Homo sapiens: one gene and its partners. The protein of the gene in region 2 purifies or fractionates together with the protein of the main gene of each other region. This does not show direct contact. Each region holds a gene or a part of one and is shown on either strand. Other genes may lie near its edges.

Region 1 (3,500 bases), on a different chromosome or scaffold from region 2:
GACTCCAGCAATCCTCCTGCCTCAGCAGAAGTAGCTGGGGCTACGGGTATGCACCACCTCACCCTGCTTATCAGTTTCGTTTAATAGAATATTTGACTTTTAGATGCGCAGATCACTACGAGATGGAATCCTGCTAGCTGTGCTGTCTTTCCATCCGGGTCACGCCCGAGAGGCACACAGCCCAACTCCTTGCTGAGATCTTCATATTCCGTGTCCTACTGACGGGCTGCCTGGGAGACATGAGTGACAGAAAACCTGACACTGCTCTGGATTCTGAAACACCTGCTGAGCTCTGTCCTAGGTCTCTAATCCACAGCCTCCCGACTTCTCTCAAACAAGTTACCAATTCTACATACAATTATACCTCAGTTCACTTTAAAATGTACTATGGCTACAATCACCCTTCCAACAGGAACACACAGGAACACATCACATTTCAAAATACTTGACATTCAGCAAAATAAAAACGTAATTGGAATCAGTGCTCACCTTTATGTCTGCTCTGTATTGGTTCAGATCCCTCACAAATGAAAGCAGTTGGCTGTTGTACCTCTCATAGTCCAGGTTCAATTCAACATCATGGGTTAGTTTAATCACGAACTGACCAGCGACCTCTGCAGCTGCTCGTGCCACTTTGTTCAACTCAGGAATCCTCTCAATCAGTTCCTTATAGGTGTCCATGGTGGTACCCAAATAAGGATAATCTGTGTCCTGCAAGACAACGCGAGGCTATGGTACTCACGTGAGTTCTAAGAGCAAGAGCCTCACATTCTGGCTTCGCCATCGAGGTAACAGTGACGACAGTTCCACCCTTGCTTCTAACATATTCCTACCGCAATTTACCCCAATTCTATCTCATTATCTGCTGCTTTAAGTACATTCTTGCTACTTCTCTCAAGCTAACCTACTCCTAGAGTGACTACTTTCTTCCAGGTTCTACAGAATCCCTGTTCTATCGTATCATATGCCCTGAATAGACTTCTAGCCAAATTCCTTAAGGCTGTATGTTTTTCTCTCTGGGAAGTTTGGGCCTTTATCAATGAAAAAAGAGAAGATACATGAAACATACCTTGAGACGAGGTCTCTCTGTCACCCAGGCTAGAGTGCAGTGATGCAATCACGACTCCCCACAGCCTTGAGACAAGGTCTCTCTGTCACCCAGGCTAGAGTGCAGCAATGCAATCATGACTCCCCGCAGCCTTGAGACAAGGTCTCTGTCACCCAGGCTAGAGTGCAGCGATGCAATCATGACTCCCTGCAGCCTTGAGACGAGGTCTCTCTCTGTCACCCAGGCTGGAGTGCAGTGATGCAATCATGGCTCCCTCTAGCCTTGAGACGAGGTCACTCTGTCACCCAGGCTAGAGTGCAGTGATGCAATCACAGCTCCCCGCAGCCTTGAGACGAGGCCTCTCTCTGTCACCCAGGCTGGAGTGCAGTGATGCAATCATGGCTCCCTGCAGCCTTGAGACGAGGTCACTCTGTCACCCAGGCTGGAGCGTGGTGATGCAATCATGGCTCCCCACAGCCTTAAGCTCCTAGCTCAAGTGACCCCCCTGCCTCAGCCTCCCAAGGAGTTGGGACTACAGCTGGCCACTGGGCCACTTAATTTAAAAAATTTTTTGTAGAGATATAGTCTAGGCACGTTACCCAGGCTGGTCTCACTCCTGGCCTCAAGTGATCTGCCCACCTCAGCCACCCAATGTGCCGGAATTATAGGTGTGAGTTACTGCACCCAGCCTGAGGAAAATACTGTTCAGCTGGACTGTCCAATAGATAGCCACTGCTCAATCACTCAAGAAATTCAGCCTTGGTTTTTTTTTTGTTGTTGTTAGACGATCTTGCTCTGTTGCCCAGGCTAGAGTGCAATGGCACGATCTCGGCTCACTGCAACCTCTGCCCCCTGGGTTCAAGCGATTCTTCCACCTCAGCCTCCTGAGCAGCTGGGATTATAGGCATGTGCCACCATGCCCAGCTAATTTTTTTGTATTTTTAGTAGAGATGGGGTTTAACCATGTTGGCCAGGCTGGTCTTGAACTCCTGACCTCAAGTGATCTACCCGCCTTGGCCTCCCAAATGCTGGGATTACAGGTATGACCCACCACACTCGGCCAAGCCTCATTATTAAAACTCATAAAGAAGTTTTAGCAATAAACTCAAATGCTAATTAAGCTAATTGAGATTAACAAGTCTATGTTAAAACTAATAATGAAGGAACATGCAATAATTACATGTGTATAACTTTTTTTTTTGAGACAGGGTCTTGCTCTGTCACCCAAGCTGCAGTGCAGTGGCTCCATCTCAGCTCACTGCAACCTCTGCCTCCCAGGTTCAAGCGATTCTCCTGCCTCAGCCTCCTGAGTAGCTGGGGTTACAGGCACACGCCACTATGTCCGACTAATTTTTGTATTTTTAGCAGAGACGGGGTTTCACCATTTTGGTCAGGCTAGTCTCAAACTCCTGACTTCGTAATCCGCCTTCCTTGGCCTCCCAAAGTGCTGGGATTAAGGGAGGAGACCACCCCTCATATTGTCTTATGCCCAATTTCTGCCTCCAAAGAAAGAAGAAGTAAAAACTAAAAGGCAGAGGTGGACAGCCCAGCGCTGCCGCACCCTGGTCCTGGTTAAAGATCGAGCCCTGACCTAACCAGTTATGTTATCTATAGATTCCAGACATTGTATAGAAAAGCACTGTGAAAATCCCGTCCTGTTCTGTTCTGTTCTAATTACCGGTGCATGCAACCCCCAGTCACGTACCCCCTGCTTGCCCAATTGATCACGACCCTCTCACGCAGACTCCCTTAGTTGTAAGCCCTTAAAAAGGTCAGGAATTGCTCACTCGGGGAGCTCAGTTTTTGGAGACGTGAGTCTTGCCAAAGCTCCCAGCCAAATAAAGCCCTTCCTTCTTTAACTCGGTGTCTGAGGGGATTTGTCTGCGGCTTGTCCTGCTACAGGATTACAGGCGTGAGCTACCACATCCAGCACATGTGTATAACTTCTTAAAACATTTTAAGCACTGCAGTAAATTTGGTCTCAAAGTTGACACAAGAAGATCCATGGCCAGGTGTAGTAAGTAGCTCTTGCCTATAATCCAAACAGTTTGGAGGCTGAAGGGGGAGGACTGCTTGAGGCTGCAGTGAGCCATGATCGGGCCACTGCACCCCAGCCTGGGTGACAGAGCAAGTCACCATTGTCAAAAAAAAAAAAAAAAACAAAACAAAAAACAAACAAAAAAAACCCAACAACTAAGATATGTGCAAGTTGTCAAAATCAAAATGGAGTCACTAGTGTTAACAAAAATGCAACCCTGAAGAGAAGGGTCTCACCCTTGTATGTCTGATAACAAGGATTAAGGGTTTTTTTTTTTCCTTTTTACAAAAACTACAACCTTACACAAAGGCCACTGCAACCTTGCACCAAAAAACTTCTCTCGTGAGAAAATCTGCCTAGCAACTGCCTGTCAACCTTGGACTGGTGTCATCCTTGTTATTGATCTTGGTAGCC
Region 2 (3,500 bases):
CTTTGCATTTTAGAAGATGAGGTTTCAGGCTGGCTTCACCAGCCGCTGGACAGAGTTTCCATGTAGGACACCTGGTGTACCATCATTCCAGGGCCCTTGCCCTTAATTTATCCTAGCATGTGAGAAGTGTAGTTTGACATCCATTCATTTATTCATCTCACAAGTATTTATTGAGTACCTACTTATTAGAGCTAATCTCAAATTATGTGCAATCATTACTCTGAGTTATGCCATAGGATGGAGTAGATCTACAGTGATCTAACCTGAAAAGGCATTTTGAAATCTTAATTGCCTGCTGGAACCTCCCCCTGGCACTGCTTCCCATGGGCCAGTGTGGCTGTGCACACCCACACCCTCCCTACTGGGGAAAGACCCCAGCATTAGGCGATTTTACCTAAAAGTCGGTCCCACAGCACAGGCTCTGAAGCAGAACAGAAAGTGCCCGGGTCTGCAGGCAGACACGCTTCTGTTCCTGGCTGCAGCTCCAACCAGCTCTGTGAAATTGGGCGAGTCATTTCACCTCTGTTCCTCCATTTCCTCATTTCTAAAATGGGGATGAGGACCTGACCCTTCCACCTTTGTGCAGTTATTATGAGGATTTCCGTATTTACTTGGGTCAAGCTGCCAATTTTTCTCAGCAGTTATATCGACAATGCAGGTGCACTGGCTAGGAAGAATAATTGCCTAATTTGGGGCCTTCAGAATGTGTCTTTTGATCTTGCATCCAAGTGTGCGTACTGAGACAGGGTGGGCAGCAGGGGCCAGTTGGAAGGAGTGGAAACTGTCACTAATGTAAACAGACTGTCCCCACGTTCTGTCTTCTCCGGGGACCAACCTGTTCACAGAAATCACTATCATGTACTTACTGTTGGTGGTGTAATGTTGTCCTCTGCCTGGGGAGGTGGAAGAGTGGTGTGCCAAGGCCACCAGTCTTAAGTCAGACTACCTTGGGTTCAAGTCCTGGCTCTACGAGTTAGCAGCTGTGTGATGTTAGGCAGGTTACTTGACCTCTCTGTTTCAGTGTTCTTTTCAGTAAAACGGGAAGGTAGTAACCACCTCATTGACATTAAACAGCGCCTGGGGATTGCCAATCACGAAGGTGGTGGTGATTGGCAGGAAACCTGTGACATCACTTAGCCCCTTGCCTTCCTTGATCCCTTTTCAAAAACCTGTGTTTGTGCACACACCCCTTCCCCTTGCAGTTCCCCCCCACCTGCCTCCTCTCCTCCCTTTCTCGCTTTCTTTTTTCTATTTTAGATTTTAAAGTACAGTAGAGACCTCGACACTAGACTTGTTTAGAAGACCTCACTGAGTGGATAATAATAAATTATTTGAAGATGGTACTAATAAGGTCTCTGGAGTACACATGATGGGCCAGGCTAAGGTTAGGGGCAATAACTTTTCCTTAGGAAGTTTGGTTTACTAGGTCTCCCTTAGAGTTAGGCCCTTCATCCCTATTACTTGTTTAAGGGAGATTTCAAGTGCATTCAGAGGGAAAGGGAGATGATTGTGGAACTCCTACTATAAGCTAAGTGCTCTTATGTTAGCTCCTTAGGCTTGACATAAAAACTTCATTCAGGGAACAAGCCCGATCTCCTGTGGGGAGTGGGGAGGGAGCCCTCTCAGGAAGGCTGAGGCCTGCCTGTCTGTCCTTCCCAGTACTGGTGGCGGTGTGGGACGCACCACTGGGAAAGCTAAGAGGCCTAGACTATCTAGGTAAGAAGAGGCGGCCTTGGATCCCCCAGGGAGCAATCAGCTGGCTGCACAGAGTGGGGAGGGCCTTGAGCTGGTCTTTGAAGAATTAGGGGGATTTAGATAAGCCGGAAGGGGAGGGGGCATTCCATTGCCGGTTGCCCAGCATCAGGGCCAAAAATGAACAAAGGCCTGGGGGTGGGCAGGGCAGCCGGCATGAAGGGCACTTGTTGGAGCAGGGGGCAGCTCGTGGGTAACGGGGTGCCAAGCATGGGTGCCTGAGCCCACTGTCAGACCCGGGGAGTGCACGGGAGGGAAGGTTGTGAGCTGGAGAAGGATGGGATGAGAAGAGATCTGTGAAAAACGTGGGTGGCAAGGGGTGAGGGCTGGACTGGAGAGGCTGAGGGAGACCAGTGGTGGAAAAGCTGCAGCAATGCAGGTGGGAGGCGCTGAGGGCCTGGCCCCCAAGGCAGGAGGGGAGAGCAAAGGAGGTGAGGAAGGCTTCAGAGATGGCCTCTAGGTTTCCATGGTGAAGGACCAGAAAATAAGGCCAATGGGAGGCGGGGAGGGGGCAGCCTTAGAGGCAGGAACAAGGAGGGGTAGGGTTGGTTTGGGCCACGTTGATAGCAGTGGTTCAAAATGCTTTTCTCTTTCTTTTCTGCTTATTTTTAAAGGGAGAGGGTAGGCTTCGCTCATGGTTTTGTATCCAAAGTTTCAGTGGCTCTCTGGGAGGAACTTCAGTGGAGAATCCTCAGGAGCAGAGGAATGATCACAGCCCCATGGTTCCTTCTGGTTATTTTTAAGATTCTAACCATCCCTGTTCAGGCCGGAATTTCCAGGAACTGGCTGCTGCCCAGCGCCAACTGGTCCCTCCCAACCTCCCACTCCCTGCAGGGTGGGGCCCCATGGGTGGAGGCTCCTTAGGGTGGAGTTGGGTGGGTCTCCAGTGATAGGGAGGGCACTGAGCAGAGGCAGATGAGAGGCAGTGTGGCCTCACGCAGCCCTTCTGGATTTGATTATATAACACTTCATAGAGGAGAATTGTGAGGGCTTAGGCGAGGCCTTGTGAGATATGTACACAGCAGGATTAGACATTATGGGTATTTTTCAATTTATCTTGGGTTGCCTGCCCTTAAAACTAAAACACAAAATTGTCAGAGAGCATAAACAAGTGTGTAACCCTAGTAGGGAAAATGATTCGAGTTTGCTGCAGTTTCTCTAAGAAGGGTGTGGAATGCCACTAGCCAGATGGCCTTGAACTTAGAGGGTAGCATAGGTGTGGGTGTCCCCGCCCCCAGCCCTGCTTTGCTAGGCCTCAGTTTGGAAACTTGTCAGGCTTCTGCTTGGTTGTTACCTTTGCACCTGTCCTTATTGACATGCAAAATCAATTGCTTCACTTGGTCTTTCCGAAGTACAGGGTGTGGGCAGAATCTTATCTGAAGCCATGTCCTGTTTGGACAAGTTGGACTTGCCTTGGCAACTCTCCATAGGGTGGAGCAGATGGGTGGAGGCAGGAAAGTAAAATTGGGTGGCTTGTTAGCAGAGAGAGGAGAGAGGGTGGGTTGTTTGCTCACTGGATCATTATATTTCATCTGAAATGAAATAATTAACTTCTTTCCCATTTATAATACACATTAATGCAAAATAACTAATTCATGAGGGGCGAAGATTTAGAAACACCCCATGGAATTTTTCTCCTTTTCAAACCAGTCATAGAAGAGTAGGACAGGTGAAAATCACAGAGTGGCATGAAAATTTCCAAGAATGTCTAGGTAGGAAATTCCAGGTAGGTGCCAGTGCTTAGCTTT
Region 3 (3,500 bases), on a different chromosome or scaffold from region 2:
TGTTTAAAGTTAATGTTTCCCCAGCAGCATTTAGTACAAGCAGTAGAATGCTCTAGTGGACTTAACCATAGCTAAATAAAACTTAATATTCTGTGTCTGTATTTGTTCTTTTCTCTATTCCATATCCTTTAAATTTCAACTCTTAAAACACTGTTGGTTCTGCCTTCACTTTTATTTCCATAAACTCTAAAGTCCTAGTGTCTATAAACTTACTTCATATAAAGCAGCTGTATTAGAAATATAATTAATGTGAGCCACACATGATTTGAAATTTTTTAGAAGCCATACAAAAAAAGGAACCATGAAATGTTAATAGTATAATTTATTTAACCCAGCATACCCCAAATAGTATTATTTCAACATAATCAATATAAAAACTAATAATGAGACATTTTATATCCTTTTTAAAATTTGTACTGTGCCTTCAAAATGTATTTTACACTTTAATAGCACATCTGAATTTGAACTAGCTACATTTCAGTGCTTAACAGCCATATACAGTAATAGATAATGCAGATCAAGAGAATTTCCAACTTTGTTTTACAGGTATTTACATACATCTTTGTAGCCACTCTTAGAGCTAAGTTCCATGGAAGAAACATGTTCTTGAGTACTTACTGTAGTTCAAGGGCACACTGAAGTGTTGTATGTAATTTTGTCATTTAGGCAGGGTGGTGGTTTTCCTATTCACTTCTCTCATACGTAAGAAGTATAAACTCATCCTTCCTTCTGAGAGTTTAGGAAATAATGTTATTGACAATCATCATCAAAACAACCATGTCTAGTGAATTAGAATTGCAATTCTAGATATTTCTTCACTCCACCCTTTTCTTTCTCTTCCCCCCACCCTTTTCTTTCTCTTCCCCACCTCCCGCCAGTAAAGGAAAATTTTTTGTTAGTTAATTGCTAAACTGAATATGTACCACATAGTACATTGCTTAGTTCTTGCACTGCTTTTCTCCTGTGTCGTTTGAATGACTAAGATACCAACTTTCCACAGGAAAGTGATGACCCCATGGCTTATATTCACTTTACTGCTGAAGGGGAAGTTACCTTCAAATCAATTTTATTTGTACCCACATCTGCTCCACGTGGTCTGTTTGACGAATATGGATCTAAAAAGAGCGATTACATTAAGGTGAGTTTTTAAGTAGTACATGCTGCGTTTAAAATTTGAAAGTTTAATTTCCAGAAAGTGACTTTTTTTTGGTCTCTTTAGCTCTATGTGCGCCGTGTATTCATCACAGACGACTTCCATGATATGATGCCTAAATACCTCAATTTTGTCAAGGGTGTGGTAAGTATCTGAAGTTTGGGAGAAGGGGTGATTGTTGTGGGGGTCTGGCAGTGTAGAGTGTTTGTTTGGCTTTGCTTTCTTCCAGTGGTTTTATTGCTCACTGAACTTTCTTTTGCCATCTGAAGGTGGACTCAGATGATCTCCCCTTGAATGTTTCCCGCGAGACTCTTCAGCAACATAAACTGCTTAAGGTAAGTGTCTCTGGGAAGAAACTCTCCACTTTGCTGTTTGATTGGGGTTCAGAGGACAGGCTCCATTTGTGGAGTAAAACCAGATTTTGGGTCTGGTCCATGATTCTTCAGATGAATTTCCTTTCTTTCTGGAGTTATCAGATCCTAAGAATCTGATTCTTTTTCTCCCAACATTTAATAATGAAGTTTCAAACATCTAGAAAAAAATTAAAGAATTGTACAGGTCCAGGATTAACATTTTGTCATCTAGACACATAGCCACCTTTTTATCAAGCCTTTCATTAAACCTTTCCCCTCCAATACTTCCATAATTAGAAGACTCTTTAGTTTTTGAATTTAAAAGTATTTGAAAGTAGCATATTTGTTCACTTCATTTAGATGCTAGAGAGAGAGTATCACTGAGTCCTAAGGTTAGAATATAAACATTAAGGCAATCTTGTGGCTATTTGCACGGACAGCTGAATTTCAGCCCAATCTGAATGAATTGGAGTGCTTCACCATTTCCTGCCCCTCAATAAATGGCAATAACGATATCGTCTTTGTGTTTTTCACACTCCTGCCTGGGTACCTTACATTCTCAAAAGTTGGAGATTAACTTCTCTAATCAGTTATTCTTTCATTGTGTTTAGGTGATTAGGAAGAAGCTTGTTCGTAAAACGCTGGACATGATCAAGAAGATTGCTGATGATAAATACAATGATACTTTTTGGAAAGAATTTGGTACCAACATCAAGCTTGGTGTGATTGAAGACCACTCGAATCGAACACGTCTTGCTAAACTTCTTAGGTTCCAGTCTTCTCATCATCCAACTGACATTACTAGCCTAGACCAGTATGTGGAAAGAATGAAGGAAAAACAAGACAAAATCTACTTCATGGCTGGGTCCAGCAGAAAAGAGGTGAGATGAACTCATAAGTGTTGTCAGCCATTCTGGAAGGTAGCTAGGGATTTATAGCCAACTCTTGAGGGGGAGAAAAGGAAAACTTAATTGTGTAACTGGAGTAGTTATAAGGCCTGGTCAGTCACTGACAGGAAGGTCATTTATATTCTCTGAACCTCTTAATTCTTCACCTGTAAAATGGAGTTTTTAATAATGTATAAACATAGCAGCTGCTAGGATAAACAAATACACCAGGGCCAGACTTGGAAAACTTTGTGACTTCTTAATTTTGTAGGCTGAATCTTCTCCATTTGTTGAGCGACTTCTGAAAAAGGGCTATGAAGTTATTTACCTCACAGAACCTGTGGATGAATACTGTATTCAGGCCCTTCCCGAATTTGATGGGAAGAGGTTCCAGAATGTTGCCAAGGAAGGAGTGAAGTTCGATGAAAGTGAGAAAACTAAGGAGAGTCGTGAAGCAGTTGAGAAAGAATTTGAGCCTCTGCTGAATTGGATGAAAGATAAAGCCCTTAAGGACAAGGTACTGTGGAAATTACAAATTGTGGAAATATTAGTATCAGCATTTAAGAGAAAGTTATTTTGTGAACAAATTAAGCTGCAGCTGGTTACTTTGTAACCATTAGAATGGTAAAAATTTAATTAATGTAATTAAATTATTGGGAGAAAGCTTAAAACTTTCGACAATACTGCTTTGTTAATAACTTGTTACAAATTAAATTTTATGTTTTTAAAAGGTGGTATTTAAACTTCTGACTAGAAAATTCAGATTATCAAGTAAGTGCCCCTACAAATTCTCCTAAACCTTAAGAAAAGCTATTTTTATGACCTGCTTCTGTGTTTATGATCTTAAGTGATAAAGTCTTAGACAGTTGAAAGACAATTGCTCAATGACCTTACCTGTTGATATTAATTTATATGACTTGATTTCTTTCCCTAAGATTGAAAAGGCTGTGGTGTCTCAGCGCCTGACAGAATCTCCGTGTGCTTTGGTGGCCAGCCAGTACGGATGGTCTGGCAACATGGAGAGAATCATGAAAGCACAAGCGTACCAAACGGGCAAGGACATCTCTACAAAGTAAGCATCCTCGGGAAAGTCCCTGCCAGGGCGTT
Region 4 (3,500 bases), on a different chromosome or scaffold from region 2:
CTAGAAACTGCTGGCAGAACTACCTGGGTAAGCAGGACCTTTCCCTGGCCACATACCTCGAGTCACTCACCGCTTGCCTCTTCCTAGGGGACCCATCCACCCCAGCCTCCTCCCTTTTATTCTGAACATCCTTACTCTGGAAGGCCCATGCCTCTCATCACCTGCTGTTCAGGTCCAGGCTAGGGTTACAAACTTTAGTTCCTGCAATGATTTTTTTTTTAATTTAAATTTTTTATTATTATTATGGTTTGGTTTTGTTTTTTTCCAGAGATGGGGTCTCACTTTGTCACCTAGGCTGGAGTGCAGTGGTGCAATCATAGCTCACTGCAGCCTCAACCTCCTGGGCTCAAGAGGTCCCCCTACCTCAGCCTCTCGAGTAGCTGGGACCACAGGCCCACACTACTGTACTTGGCTAATTTTTTTGTAGAGAAGAGGTCTCAGTTTGTTGCCCAGGCTGGTCTCAAACTCTTGGCTTCATGCGCTCTTCCTGCCTCAGCTTCTCAAAGTGTTGGGATTATAGGTGTGAGCCACCGTGCCTGGCCCCTACAATGATTTTTTTTTAAGCTGTATGTGTGTGCGTACTGTAACATGTACAGAAAGCACATAACAAACATGTACAGCTAAATGAATAATTCTAAAGTGAACCCCTTGTGCAACCATAACCTGGAGAGAAAAGCAGACATTGCCCACACTCTCATCTCCCTGCCTTCTTTTTTTTTTTTTTGAGATGGAGTTTTGCTCTTGTTGCCCAGGCTGGAGTGCAATGGTGCAATCTTGGCTCACTGCAACCTCCGCCTCCCAGGTTCAAGCAATTCTCCTGCCTCAGTCCCCCAAGTAGCTGGGATTACAGGCACCTGCCACCACACCCAGCTAATTTTTTGTATTTTTAGTAGAGACGGGGTTTCTCCATGTTGGTCAGGCTGGTCTCAAACTCCTGACCTCAGGTGATCCACCCGCCTCGGCCTCCCAAAATGCTGGGATTACAGGCATGAGCCACCGCGCCTGGCCTCCCCACCTTCTTTATGTCCTGTCTGGAACACAGCACCCCGCTCTCCCCAGTAGAGAAGTGACGCCACTAACTGGGGGTTATCACATCTTTGTTTTTGGTTTTGGTTTTTGTTTTTGAGACTGAGTTTTTTGTTTTCGTTGCCCAGGCTGGAGTGCAATGTCACGATCTCGGCTCACTGCAACCTCTTCTGCCTGCTGGGTTCAAGCAATTCTCCTGTCTCAGCCTCACTAGTAGCTGGGATTACAGGCACCCGCCACCATGCCCAGCTAATTTTTTGTATTTTTTTTTTTTTTTAGTAAAGACAAGGTTTCACCATGTTGATCAGGCTGATCTTGAACTCCTGACCTCAGGTGATCCACCCACCTCAGCCTCCCAAAGTGCTGGAATTACAGGCGTGAGCCACTGTGCCCGGCCTCACATCTTTGTTTTTTACCACCATGTTTATTATTTTATTTTATTTTATATATGTTATGTTGTTATGTTATTGATGGAGTCTGTTTCTTGTTGCCCAAGTTGGAGTGCAATGGCACGATCTCAGCTCATTGCAACCTCTGCCTCCCGGGTTCAAGTGATTCTCCTGCCTCAGCCTCCTGAGTAGCTGGGAATACAGGCGCTCGCCACCACACCCAGCTAATTTTTTTTTTTTTTTTTTTTTGAGACGGAGTCTCGCTTTGTCGCCCAGGTTGGAGTGCAGTGGTGCAATCTCGACTCACTGCAACCTCCGCCTCCCAGCTTCAAGCACTTCTCTGCCTCAGCCTGCCGAGTAGCTGGGATTACAGTCGCCTGCCACCATGCCTGGCTAATTTTTTTTTTTTGTATTTTTAGTAGAGACAGGGTTTTACCATCTTGGCCAGGCTGGTCTTAAACTCCTGACCTCGTGATCCACCCCCCTCAGCCTCCCAAAGTGCTGAGATTACAGGTGTAAGCCACCATGCCTGGCCAATTTTATTTATTTATTTGAGACAGAGTCTCGCTCTGTTGCCCAGGCTGGAGTGCAGTGGTACAACCTTGGCTCACTGCAACCTCCGCCTCCCGGGTTTAAGCAATTCTCCTGCCTCAGCTTCCTGAGTAGCTGGGACTACAGGCGCGTGCCACCATGCCCGGCTAATTTTTTGTGTTTTTAGTAGAGACAGGATTTCACCATGTTGGCCAGGCTGGTCTCGATCTCCTGACCTCATGATCTGCCTGCCTCGGCCTCCCAAAGTGCTGAGATTACAGGCGTGAGCCACCGTGCCTGGCCAATTTTTTGTATTTTTTTTTTTTTTTTGAGATGGAGTCTCGCTCTGTCGCCCAGGCTGGAGTGCAGTGGCGTGATCTCGGCTCCCTGCAAGCTCCGCCTCCTGGGTTCACACCATTCTCCTGCCTCAGCCTCCCGAGTAGCTGGGACTACAGGTGCCCGCCACCGCGCCCAGCTAATTTTTTGTATTTTTAGTAGAGATGGGGTTTCACCGTGGTCTCTATCTCCTGACCTCGTGATCTGCCTGCCTCGGCCTCCCAAAGTGCTGGGATTACAGGCATGAGCCACTAGGTCCAGCCACTTTTTTGTATTTTTAATAGAGACAGGGCTTCACCATGTTGTCCAGGCTGGTCTCGAACTCCTACCCTCAAGTGATCCACCTGCCTTAGCTTCCCAAAGTGCTGGGATTACAGGCCTGAGCCACCATGCCCGGCTACCACCGTGTTTAGATTCACCTCTTTGTGAACTTTATACATACTGTGTGTATTCTTTTGTGTTTGGATTTTTTCATTCAGTACCTTCTCAGATCCATACATGCTGTGGCATATAGCTTGCTCATTTTCATTGCTGTCCAGTTTTCTACAATTTATTCTATGCCTGTACACTTGTGTGATTTCCATTTTGGAGTTCTTACAAATGGTGTGGCTGTAAACATCTTTATAAATGTAATTTTGCTGGGTGCAGTGGCTCACGCCTGTAATCCTAGCACTTTGGGAGGCCGAGGTGGGCAGATCAAGACCAGCCTGGCCAACATGGCGAAACCCTGTCTCTACTAAAAATACAAAAATTAGCTGGGCATGGTGGCAGGTGCCTGTAATCCCAGCTACTTGAGAGGCTGAGGCAGGAGAATCACTTGAACCCAGGAGGAGGTAGAGGTTGCAGTGAGCTGAGATCGCACCACTGCACTCCAGCCTGAGTGACAGATTGAGACCCTACCTCAAAAAAAAAAAAAAATGTGTTCCAACTCTTGATCTGGGCTGACTTGAACCCCTTTCTTCACAGACTTCCACCGCTGTCAGAAGGCAATGACCGCTAAAGGAGGCGATATCTCTGTGTGCGAATGGTACCAGCGTGTGTACCAGTCCCTCTGCCCCACATCCTGGGTATGTGCCTCCTGCCAGGGCCCTTGGGATGCTGGGGTGGGGTCTTAGCAGAGGGGAGTGTGGTGGCTTGGTGGGAGCTCATCTGTGAGGGGCAGAGGGAGGACAGGGCACCACACTGTCCCAGGACTCAGTGCCTTTCCTCCCGCCTAGA
Region 5 (3,500 bases), on a different chromosome or scaffold from region 2:
AAAACGCAGTCCGAAAAATGGCAAGGTTCTCCACTTTCAGTAACTGTTTAATCATTAACTTGTGGACAAATTTAGTGACTTAAAATTACACTGAAGTTGAGTTTCAAAAAGTTCCCATTGTCAAATATACAAAAGAAAATAACACAATACTCACTTACCCCAACTCTGTGTAATCTGATTTAGGATAAATTCTTAGAGAAATCTTTCTACTAACTCTTGCCACTTGCCTATGAACATATTACCAAAAAAATTATATGGCTATGAGTTACTGGTGCTTTCAGATATACAAAACATTTCTAGTCAGAACAAACAGCCAGTGAAGGATATTAAAAACAGATTTTTACAGAATTTGAAATAGTATCTGCTTTGTAATCATTCTTTTAACTGTACTAGTATTAGCATCCTAAATTATGTGAAGTATTTGCTGGTTTCCACCACAGAAGAGTCAGAATTAAAAAAAAAAAAAAAAAAAAAAAAACGAATGGCGGGCAGGGCACGGTGGCTCACACCTGTAATCCCAGCACTTTGGGAGGCCGACGAGGATGGTTCACCTGAGGTTGGGAGTTCGAGACCAGCCTCACCAAGAAGGAGAAACCCCGTCTCTACTAAAAATGCAAAATTAGCCAGGCTTGGTGGCTCATGCCTATAATCCCAGCTACTCAGGAGGCGGAGGCAGGATAATCTCTTGAACCCGGGAGGTGGAGGTTGTTGCAAGCCAAGCAATTGCACTCCAACGTGGGTTACAAGAGTGAAACTCCATCTCAAAAAAAAAAAAAAAAAGGCATATAAAATGGTCAAAGAAAAAAGGCTGCTTATGGCACCACTTCCTCCCCATCTTCATTTTGTATCTTCTCCAATTTAGTCAGATCAGCTTGAGCTCATTTAACTATTGATCTCAAGGAATTATTTGCACATAAATGATTACTTTTACAGTGTAATCCAGACAATTTGCAAGGCCTGAATATCTTATAATTTAATATTTAAACAAGATACATCTCTTTTAGAAAATACAAAACAAGGATGGGCACAGTGGCTCACACCTGTAATCCCAGCACTTTGGGACGCCAAGGCAGGAGGATCACCTGAGGTCAGGAGTTGGACATCAGCCTGACCAACACAGTGAAACTCCATCTCTACTAAAAACACAAAATTAGGGCAGGCGTGGTGGCTCACGCCTGTAATCTCAGCACTTTGGGAGGCAGGCGGATCATGAGGTCAGGAAATCAAGACCATCCTGGCCAACATGGTGAAACCCCAAATCTACTAAAATAAAAAAATTACCCAGGCGTGGTGGTAACGCGCCTGTAGTCCTAGCTACTCGAGAGGCTGAGGCAGGAGAATCGCTTGAACCCGGGAGGTGGAGGTTGCAGTGAGCTGAGACTGGGCCACCACACTCCAACCTGGGTGACAGAGCAAGACTCCGTCTTCAAAGAAAGAAAGAAAGAAAAAAAACTATTCTGTAAAACAGATATGCATCTCAGTGGCAAAGGCAGAACTTTACACACTAGAATATAACAGAAGTTTTAGATGTTTTGCTTTTTTTTTTTTTTTTTTGAGACAGTCTCGCTCTGTCACCAGGCTGGAGTGCGGTGGCGCCATCTTGGCTCACTGCAACCTTCACCTCCTGGGTTCAAGCGATTCCCCTGCCTCAGCCTCCCACATAGCTGGGACTACAGGCGTGCACCACCACGCCCAGGTAATTTTTTGTATTTTAGTAGAGACGGGGTTTCACCATGTTGGCCAGGATGGTCTCGATCTCCTGACCTAGTGATCCACCCGCCTTGGCCTCCCAAAGTGTTAGGATTACAGGCGTGAGCCACTGCGCCCAGCCTGTTTTGCCATTTTTAGTCACACATAATTTTGTTTACTAGAGTAAATTAATGCTAATAAAGAAAACACTAAGTCTTAAAAGGGAAGAAAAACATTAATAGCCTCCAAATGTCATCAACATGACACGTGATTTTAAAAGAGGTCTTTGAGTGGCCTTAGGTACTATGTATGCAATCTGCCCTCTCCTCCCTTTGGCTAACCCTATCGCAGTGAATCAGGTGGTCTACAGTTTCACTGGTAACTGGTCCCTTGTGATAGACTTGTCTCTTTAATAACATTATTAAACTAACCACTTTCCACAATGTTTTAGACTCACACTACTTATATTAGGCAGCAGGTCCCCATCCTAGCACTCATCTCATATGAACATTATTTAGTTTAAAGGTCTTTACAGAATTCCATGATATTCCTTAGGAAAACTAAGGTAAGGTAAGACAGCTGAGAATCATGGCTCCATGAGTCTGTCTCATTGCCTGTGACTGCTCCTGGCTGGAATTTCACTGCACTGTCCTGGTCTCCCCTGCTCCTTTTCCACCTGTCACAACTTTTTCCAACCTTCACGGGCCAACTCAAATGCCAACTCTATAAAAGAATCTGACTACATCTCCCAGCCTGGAACTACCCTCCCTATTAAGTCCCAAGACACTTTGTTAATATCTGTCTAATGGCAGTACCATATTGCCTTGTATCATATTCCTTGAAGGTAGAGACCAAGTAATTCACCTTTGAATCATCGAACACCCCATATAGTTATCCTTTTAGTAGCCATTATGTAACTCAGTATTTTAATTCTAGGGGGACAGGTGTCTTTAGCAATTTGGTGAAACTAACTGACCCAATCCAATCTAATCAAGTACTAACAACAAAGCACCTAAATTATTGCTATCAGTCACAAGAGTTACTGCACCATTAATTTAAAGTAATGATGTATTCTCAATTTTGTACTCACTAAGGACTGACTACAGTCACTCTCTGAAACTCTCAGCTTTCTGAAATCATAGGTGAGATTCTGCCCAGATGAATTTAGGATCCACAACTTTCAGCTTCTGACAGGGATTAGGGCCAACCACTCAAAGGACATTCCCAATGTAATTTTTTTTTAAATCCACTAACAGAAGTATCTTCTACTTGTCAATGTTATTTTGAGGATTCCAATCTATAATAAAGCAAATACTAGAAAATATCAAAGGAAGAAAGCTGCTGAATCATAAAACCATGAAAATTAGATTTCAGATTATCTAACACAATCCCCACGTGTGGCTGAGAAATTTACACCCAAGACAACTAAAAAAGCCAGCAACCAGGCCAGAACCTCTAATTTGTCATCCAGGTTCTGTTAGTCCAAGAATTCATAATCAATTGGATTTCAGTACTATTTTATGCAAGCTACAAACATACATGCTAACTTCAATAAAAACCAAAATACTGTTTTTCACTTTTGTCAGGCAGCAGGAAAACACTTAAGTTTCTTCCTTTTGCTAAAAACCACTAATATAAGGCACCACTTACTGAAGGTTCCTTGGGTTTGTGTTTTCTCTGGAAAAAATTTTTCGTGAAACCTGATGTACGTATACTGCACTGATGTAGCCTGCCTGACACTGTAAGAGATTTTGGAACCATACTCAACCTGGGTTAATCACTTAACCCAGTTTAACTACTTGCTGTGTTAC
Region 6 (3,500 bases), on a different chromosome or scaffold from region 2:
GCACTATTGCATTCCAGCCTGGGCAACAAGAGCAAAACTCTGTCTCAAAAAAAAAAAAAAAAAATTCAGACAGCCACCAGCGGCTACACTGTCCTGGGCAGCTCAGCATTGGGGCATTCCCTGTGAGAATCTTGCAACAGGGGGAAGACAGCGACCAAACTTACAAATGTGATTAGAACTGGCAAGACCCCTTAGGGGCAGCGAACTTGTTCTTTTTTTTTTTTTTTTTTTTTTTTTTTGAGATGGAGCCTCTGTCGCCCAGGCTGGAGTGCAGTGGCGTGATCTCGGCTCACCGCAAGCTCCACCTCCCGGGTTCACACCATTCTCCTGCCTCAGCCTCCCCAGTAGCTGGGACTACAGGTGCCCGCCACCACACCCGGCTAATTTTTTGTGTATTTTTTAGTAGAGACGGGGTTTCACCGTGTTAGCCAGGATGGTCTGGATCTCCTGACCTCGTGATCCGCCCGCCTTAGCATCCCAAAGTGCTGGGGTTACAGGCGTGAGCCACTGTGCCCAGCTGAACTTATTCTTAAAGCAAGTGCCCCGGACCTCCAGTGGGCCTGTTCTGGTGCCTTCTACCAGGGTCAGCTCAGACAGTTCAGCGTCAAAGCCAAAGACTAGAGACCAGGTGATTACGGTTTCTTTGGAGACAGAGTCTCACCCTGTCACTCAGACTGGAGTGCACTGGCGCAATCTTGGCTCATGGCAACCTCCGCCTCCTGGGTTCAAGTGATTCTCCTGCCTCGGCCTCCTTAGTAGCTGGGATTACAGTCACCCACCAAAGTACCTGGCTAATTTTTTTTTTTTTTTTGGTATTTTTAGTGGAGATGGGGTTTCACCGTGTTGGCCAGGCTGGTCTTGAGCTCCTGGCCTCAAGTGACCCACCTAACTCTGCCTCCCAAAGTGTTGGTGTTACAGGTGTGAGCCACCGCGCCCGGCCAAGACCAGGTGATTAAAATTTGGTTGTAGGCAGGTGCAGTTGCTTATGCCCGTGGTCCCAGCTACTCCGGAAAATGAGCGGGGAGGATCGCTTGAGCCCAAGAATTCAAGGCTGCAGTGAGTCATGATTGCAGCCCTGCACGCCAGCCTGGGTGACAGAGCAAGACTTGGTCTTTTTTTTTTTTTTTTTTTTTTGAGACAGAGTCTCGCTCTTTCGCCCAGGTTGGAGTGCAGTGGCGCGATCTCGGCTCACTGCAAGCTCCATCTCCTGGGTTCACGCCATTCTCCTGCCTCAGCCTCCCGAGTAGCTGGGACTACAGGCGCCCGCCATCACGCCCGCCTAATTTTTGTATTTTTTGGTAGAGACGGGGTTTCACTGTGTTAGCCAGGAGGGTCTCGATCTCCTGACCTCATGATCCACCCGCCTCGGCCTCCCAAAGTGCTTGGATTACAGGCGTGAGCCACCACGCCCGGCCAAGACTTGGTCTCTTAAAAAATGGAGGAAAGAAAACACAGTCTCTTTTTTTCCCCTGAGATAGCTTATCCTAAGGACAAGGCTCTGAGGGGTAAGGAGACAGGGTTTGGTTTTAGTTTTGACTCTCTTGGTCCTGTGTCCCTGGGACTGGTGAGTCCACCAGGGACTGCACTCCTCCATCTCCCAGGCCGTCCGTGGCCAGGGCCAGTTGGCGGAGGGGAGGGAGTTGATGGAGCTGGTGGGTGGGGCTCCCAGGGCCATGCTCCCACCCAGCCCACCCCCTGCTGGAGCACTGCTGGGCCCCAGCGACCCTGCCCCATACTTGGCAGGCCCTGACTGCAGAGATCGTGAAGACCATCCGGGACATCATTGCCTTGAACCCTCTCTACAGGTGGGCCTCTGTGCGGGCAGCTGGCCAGGCGGGGGCATCTCTGCAGCTCTTTCTGCAGCTGGGTGGGTAGGGGGCTTCCTCAGCGTCCTCCTGGGAGGAAACCTTGCCTGCCCCAAGGAGTGGCCTGTGTGGAGGAGCCCGTTGCCCACTGGGGCATGGGGCAGGTGGGAGGCCCGGGGCCGACTCAGCAGGCCCAGTTTCTTTGTCCCCTTCTGCTGAGGCCGGAAGCTGTTGGTGGCATTGGCTGGGGGAGTGGGGAGCAGACTGCTGAGGTGAGGTCACTGCACGGCTCCCGTGGTGGCTGCACGTGAGGATGCTGCATGCCTTTCCAGCCCAGGACGGGTGGGCCCTGAACTCTGGAGAACAAGCAGCAGAGCTGGCTCCCAGCGAGCACCCCTAGACCGTGCCCATAGCTACAGGGGACAGGGACCCTGAGGACCGGGTCCCCGTTTGGGGGCTGCACTGCAGCAGAGCGTGAGGCCCTGGCCACCGAGGCAGCTCCCTTTGTCCCCCAGGGAGTCAGTGCTGCAGATGATGCAGGCTGGCCAGCGGGTGGTGGACAACCCCATCTACCTGAGCGACATGGGCGCCGCGCTCACCGGGGCCGAGTCCCATGAGCTGCAGGACGTCCTGGAAGAGACCAATGTGAGTGCTCGTCACCTCCACAGCCCCCCACGCCTGGCTGCACCCCACCTCCACTATGCTCCGCCCACGCCCGGCTGCCCCCGTTCCTCCTCAGCTCCCCCATGCCTGGCTGCCCTTGTCCCTCCACCGTGCACCATCCACACCCAGCTGTGTGTCCCTGGCTCTGTTTTTGAGATGATTTCCCGCTGCGTGTCTTGGTCCACATCCATCCGCCTTTCGGTGGCTTCATAGCCTTCGGTTGGGAGTCACCGTTGCGGGTTCAGTGGGATCCTCTGGGCCGTGTACCCGGGGCGTTGCCAGTCTTTTGCTGTTGTGAGCAGCACTCCTGAGCGCGTCCCCATGCACGCAGCTGGAGGGCCTGTGAAGTATCCGTAGGATGCGTTTCCAGCACGGGATTTGTTGGGGCAGAGGGCACACATGCCTCTGTGCTGGGTACAGCATGGCCAGGTCCTCCCGGCAGCATCTCTCAGGGTGCGCATTTTCCCCCAACCTCGGCCCTACACACACAGATGCCGACTTCTGCTCATCCTTTCTGTCCTCCCTGTCTCGGCAGATTCCTAAGCGGCTGTACAAGGCCCTCTCCCTGCTGAAGAAGGAATTTGAACTGAGCAAGCTGCAGCAGCGCCTGGGGCGGGAGGTGAGCCCGCGGCTGAGGCGCAGCCACTCTTGGGGGCCTTCCCCTCGGGCCACGTGACATCAGTCAGGCTCTGGAGCACACGGAGGGACCGGTGGCATCGGCCAGGGCAAGCCAAGAAGGCCTGTCTGGGTTTTGAGGGCTTCGTGCCATCATCTGCTCTGTCGTCCTGGGCTGTGGAACTCTCCGCGTTGAACAGGGAAGCTTAAAGCTGGTCCCAGTGTAATGAGCCCAGGGTGGAGCAGTCTCAGGACCGTCCAACATTAAGGGAAGAATTCCTTTGCCTTTGTAATCTTGGGGACAGTGTTGGAAATTGGAAAGCAGCCTGGGAAAAGTGAAGATGCTGTTTCTTAAGACCCAGCCATTGAGGCTCGCTGTCATGATTTTCGGCAGATCACAGCCTGCCTGATGGCCGG
Region 7 (3,500 bases), on a different chromosome or scaffold from region 2:
TTACCTGGAAAGATGGTTTAGATTCTGACAAGTTTTCACTAAATCATACTTGGTTTGTATTTTAAAGTCTAAAACATGACCAGTCCTCAAACTGTAACTGAGATCTACATTCTGAAGATGTGACTATGGTCAGTTTGCTGGTCCAGTCACCTTAGCTAATCAGACTGACCACTGAGGGAGCCTAGACACCTTGAGGGAAACAAAAAACCAATAGAACTATAGCCCCTCCCACTCCTCCTCCAACCAAAGTCAGAATGCCCATAATTACCGCCAGGGCGTCGCCTGATGATGAGTTTTCTGACTTCGTCATATACGAAGATGAGAAGAGAGTAGGGGAAGGCACAGAACCACCAGGTAGGTCTGGAAATAGAGTAAGGTACCAATTTATATGCACACGAACACAGTTCAAATAAAGAAAGAGAAATTGCACATCACCAGTGACAATGAAATAATCAGCCTGAAAGGAGAAGCCAAGTACAGTCACAGTTAACTACTGAGTCATTAACAGAACAAATAAAAATGTCTTAAAACAGATTGCTACTCCATGTGCCCAGGGCCTAGAGACGCAGAGGAAATCAGTCTGCAGACTTTGTAATGGAATCCCTACTCATCTTCAGTTTGGATTTCATAAGACTTGGTTTATAGGATGAGCAGAGTACTTTTCTGTTAACCATCCCAGAGCAACTGAACATTTTCTTTCTTTCATTTCTAAAGTGTTTAAGAAGCTTTTTAAGACCATCTGCCTAATATCCCAGCATTTTGAAGATAAAGACCTGCCAGTGTGGGTCAAAACCAGTTTATGCATTCCCCAAATTTGATCTCTGACAACAGCATTTGGGATATCAGCTCTGTGTTCTGAGGCCTGGTCCTGGGGACTGAAAAAAGCTGAGCCCGAAGGCTTCCAAGGGGCCTGGAGGCTGAGCCACACAGTCTCTAGCCTGCTGACAGGCTCCAGGCAGCCTCCGTGATCACCAGCTCCCTGCTATGGTGTGAGAAAGGCTGTCCCTGGGCAGGACTCCGGTGGTCTCCTCTTCTTCCTGTGTGTCTGACAAGGCAGCTAAGAGAGATGATCTCATTTGACTCAGTCACCGAATAACTGAACCACCTTCCAAAATTGGGCAGAACCTGTCAGAACAATCTCTTTGGTGGTGGCAAAAAAACCAGGGAAGGACCCAGAAGATGGAAATGCCCCCTTTTCAGTGTAATTTTCCACCAGCCTTTTTGGAAAGCTCTGTGACCTCTCCAAGCCCCATCTTGATACATAATGGCCCAAGCTGACAGAATTCAATTTGGAGATGGCTGGCCCCTGCTGTACACCAGCTTTGTGTAGGGAGCTGGGGATGCACAGAGAAGAAAGACACTGTGGCCCATGCCTTCTAGATTAAAACCTAGCAGGGAGGTGAAATGACAAGCAACAAGTAATGCCAGAGAAGAGGTGCAAGTGCACAGGCCCTGGAGGGACAAGCTCCAAGGAAACCGGCCCTGAAGGGACTATCAGGATTGGCAGGGTAAGAGGGAACAGAAGGAGGGATGTGGGGAGGAAGGATCTTACCAAACACAAAGGCAGAGGAAGAAAGCCGAATTCACCTAACATGAGCTTGGATGGGTAAGGGGTACAAGAGAAAGCTATAAAGACAGGTTGGGACAATGAGACTGACTCTGGATGCCAGTCTCATCTTGCACCACAGACGATGTCTGCACATAACCCACAGGAAGTGAATGAGGCTGATGGGTTTTGGTTACTTTAGGGATAAGATGAGCTGAAGGAAGTGCTGGCAACAGGGGATTGAGAGATGGTCCAGACGGGTCTGAGCAAGGATGAGGACAGCAGGAATTCAAAGGAGACTAATGCTTTAAATCAAAAGCTTCAAAGGAACTTGTAAATGGGTCCCACAATCTGTGGCTTTGCACGTTTTAATCAAGTTGCAGTTGCTTAACCTCAACCAGGTATCACCAAACATACTCAATGTTGCAAAAAACTAACGGAGTTTGTGATAAACCCTCTTTGAAAATTCAAGTTTATCTGAAATGCAGAGTCATTCACTGTGTTTAAGGCCAAAGACTAGCAGTATGCTTCCTTTGATCAACTCTACCCATGACTGATTATAAAGTAAAAGGGACCTCAGATCTGTTTCTCCAACCTTCTTTCTTTGAGAGCAGAGTATTCAGAGTCTCAGAAAGGTGGATGACTTGTAATGGGACAGTGACTAAGCAAGCAAATCAAGATTTGAGCCTGGGCGCCTACGCTCCAGCATACCCCCAGTTGGCCTCTAAAGACAACTGGACTACAGCTGTGGCAGACCTGAGTGCTCAATGCAGTTCGCTGTTGAGCAGTTCCATGGAGCTAGAGCCTGTGTGGCTTTATCTTATCTTGGGCCAAATCCTAAACACTAGCTGCTATCATGGAAGCCTCAGGATTTGTTAGTCTGATTTACTGACATGTCAAGCTTTCACAGTTTTCCAACCCATAGGAATTTTTGTACATACCACTCAAAATTCTGAAAATAACAACTATTACCACAAGTAATGGGGGGAAAAGCCACACATACTATTTCATACTTTTTGGAGCTACCAGAGGATCAACTTACTTGAGGGGATACATCCTAAGAGCAACACCCATTCCAGGGCAGTAGGAAAGGAAAGCAGCCAGGGCTGTCTCTTCAAAGAGGCCAAATATCAAGATCTTGTTCCTAAAATCAAAGTAGGGGAGAAAAAACTTAAAAGGTGCAAATAAAGGTTTATCTTCTAATGCTATGCATTAAAATGGCAGATCAACATCTTTATGTATTAGCTGTACTTGAAAACTTGGAGGTCAGATGAAAAAACTAGAAAGCTACATTTCTTGCTTCCTAAATTTGCTCTATAAACTAGAGATTCCAGAAACCTGGCTATATGTGTCATATGTTTAGTTTTTGGCAAAGGGTTTACAAATCACCAGTCCCCTTCTTTGAGCCAAGGCCTTGACATGTCCTTCATTACTTACTTCATCCCCTGCTGGAAGACCGAATTCCTCCTGGTCTTACAGATGACCAAGTCGGCCCACTGCACCACCACGATACTGACGAAGAAGGCTGTGTGGCAGGTGAACTCCACGATTTTCCTCTGCTCATAGGTCTGAAATGCAGAAGACAGAAGATGAGCTCTGGCTCTTCACCTGCATGGCTGGTGGCAGTGTGGCCTCAGTCTTCTGGGGCTTGAGGAGCTCTGACACTGGTCAGGTCAGAGGTGCCCACTCACCCACTGCTGCCCGTAGCTGTCTTCCACATCGTTGATCCAGCGGTCATCCCAGTCCACTCGGAGGCCCAACAGGTGAATTGGGAGGAAGCCGTTCTCAGCCAGAATCACAAAGTAAGTAAAGAAGCCTCCCAGGGCCTGGATCATTCCTAAGTTGGGAAAACAACCCAATTACTAGAACCTCACACACAAGGGTACCTGTATAGCCTTCAGCTGATTACTGCAGCAGGCCTGGGAGAGCACATATGGAGGAGTGTTTCCCCCTG

The links.
Region 1: the proteins of KLF3 (region 2) and TFRC purify together in Homo sapiens (affinity purification with mass spectrometry, with the first as the bait; one large-scale study listed by BioGRID). This does not show direct contact.
Region 3: the proteins of KLF3 (region 2) and HSP90B1 purify together in Homo sapiens (affinity purification with mass spectrometry, with the first as the bait; one large-scale study listed by BioGRID). This does not show direct contact.
Region 4: the proteins of KLF3 (region 2) and COX6B1 purify together in Homo sapiens (affinity purification with mass spectrometry, with the first as the bait; one large-scale study listed by BioGRID). This does not show direct contact.
Region 5: the proteins of KLF3 (region 2) and CNBP purify together in Homo sapiens (affinity purification with mass spectrometry; one large-scale study listed by BioGRID and IntAct). This does not show direct contact.
Region 6: the proteins of KLF3 (region 2) and LONP1 purify together in Homo sapiens (affinity purification with mass spectrometry, with the first as the bait; one large-scale study listed by BioGRID). This does not show direct contact.
Region 7: the proteins of KLF3 (region 2) and ATP1A1 purify together in Homo sapiens (affinity purification with mass spectrometry, with the first as the bait; one large-scale study listed by BioGRID). This does not show direct contact.

Annotation. Positions count from the first base shown.
Region 1 is NC_000003.12:196,054,591-196,058,090, forward strand, and holds part of TFRC (transferrin receptor protein 1), read right to left. Parts: intron 712-3,500; coding exon 490-711; intron 1-489. UniProt on the Homo sapiens protein: Cellular uptake of iron occurs via receptor-mediated endocytosis of ligand-occupied transferrin receptor into specialized endosomes. Endosomal acidification leads to iron release.
Region 2 is NC_000004.12:38,670,699-38,674,198, forward strand, and holds part of KLF3 (Krueppel-like factor 3), read left to right. Parts: intron 1-3,500. UniProt on the Homo sapiens protein: Binds to the CACCC box of erythroid cell-expressed genes. May play a role in hematopoiesis.
Region 3 is NC_000012.12:103,940,410-103,943,909, forward strand, and holds part of HSP90B1 (endoplasmin precursor), read left to right. Parts: intron 1-1,000; coding exon 1,001-1,138; intron 1,139-1,219; coding exon 1,220-1,297; intron 1,298-1,422; coding exon 1,423-1,488; intron 1,489-2,117; coding exon 2,118-2,387; intron 2,388-2,664; coding exon 2,665-2,910; intron 2,911-3,328; coding exon 3,329-3,465; intron 3,466-3,500.
Region 4 is NC_000019.10:35,651,323-35,654,822, forward strand, and holds part of COX6B1 (cytochrome c oxidase subunit 6B1), read left to right. Parts: coding exon 1-27; intron 28-3,248; coding exon 3,249-3,349; intron 3,350-3,500. UniProt on the Homo sapiens protein: Component of the cytochrome c oxidase, the last enzyme in the mitochondrial electron transport chain which drives oxidative phosphorylation.
Region 5 is NC_000003.12:129,173,897-129,177,396, forward strand, and holds part of CNBP (CCHC-type zinc finger nucleic acid binding protein), read right to left. Parts: intron 1-3,500. UniProt on the Homo sapiens protein: Single-stranded DNA-binding protein that preferentially binds to the sterol regulatory element (SRE) sequence 5'-GTGCGGTG-3', and thereby mediates transcriptional repression. Has a role as transactivator of the Myc promoter.
Region 6 is NC_000019.10:5,706,647-5,710,146, reverse strand, and holds part of LONP1 (lon protease homolog, mitochondrial isoform 1 precursor), read left to right. Parts: intron 1-1,743; coding exon 1,744-1,805; intron 1,806-2,320; coding exon 2,321-2,450; intron 2,451-3,003; coding exon 3,004-3,087; intron 3,088-3,500. UniProt on the Homo sapiens protein: ATP-dependent serine protease that mediates the selective degradation of misfolded, unassembled or oxidatively damaged polypeptides as well as certain short-lived regulatory proteins in the mitochondrial matrix.
Region 7 is NC_000001.11:116,400,744-116,404,243, reverse strand, and holds part of ATP1A1 (sodium/potassium-transporting ATPase subunit alpha-1), read right to left. Parts: intron 3,384-3,500; coding exon 3,238-3,383; exon of another isoform or gene 3,115-3,237; coding exon 2,984-3,114; intron 2,691-2,983; coding exon 2,589-2,690; intron 361-2,588; coding exon 269-360; intron 1-268. UniProt on the Homo sapiens protein: This is the catalytic component of the active enzyme, which catalyzes the hydrolysis of ATP coupled with the exchange of sodium and potassium ions across the plasma membrane.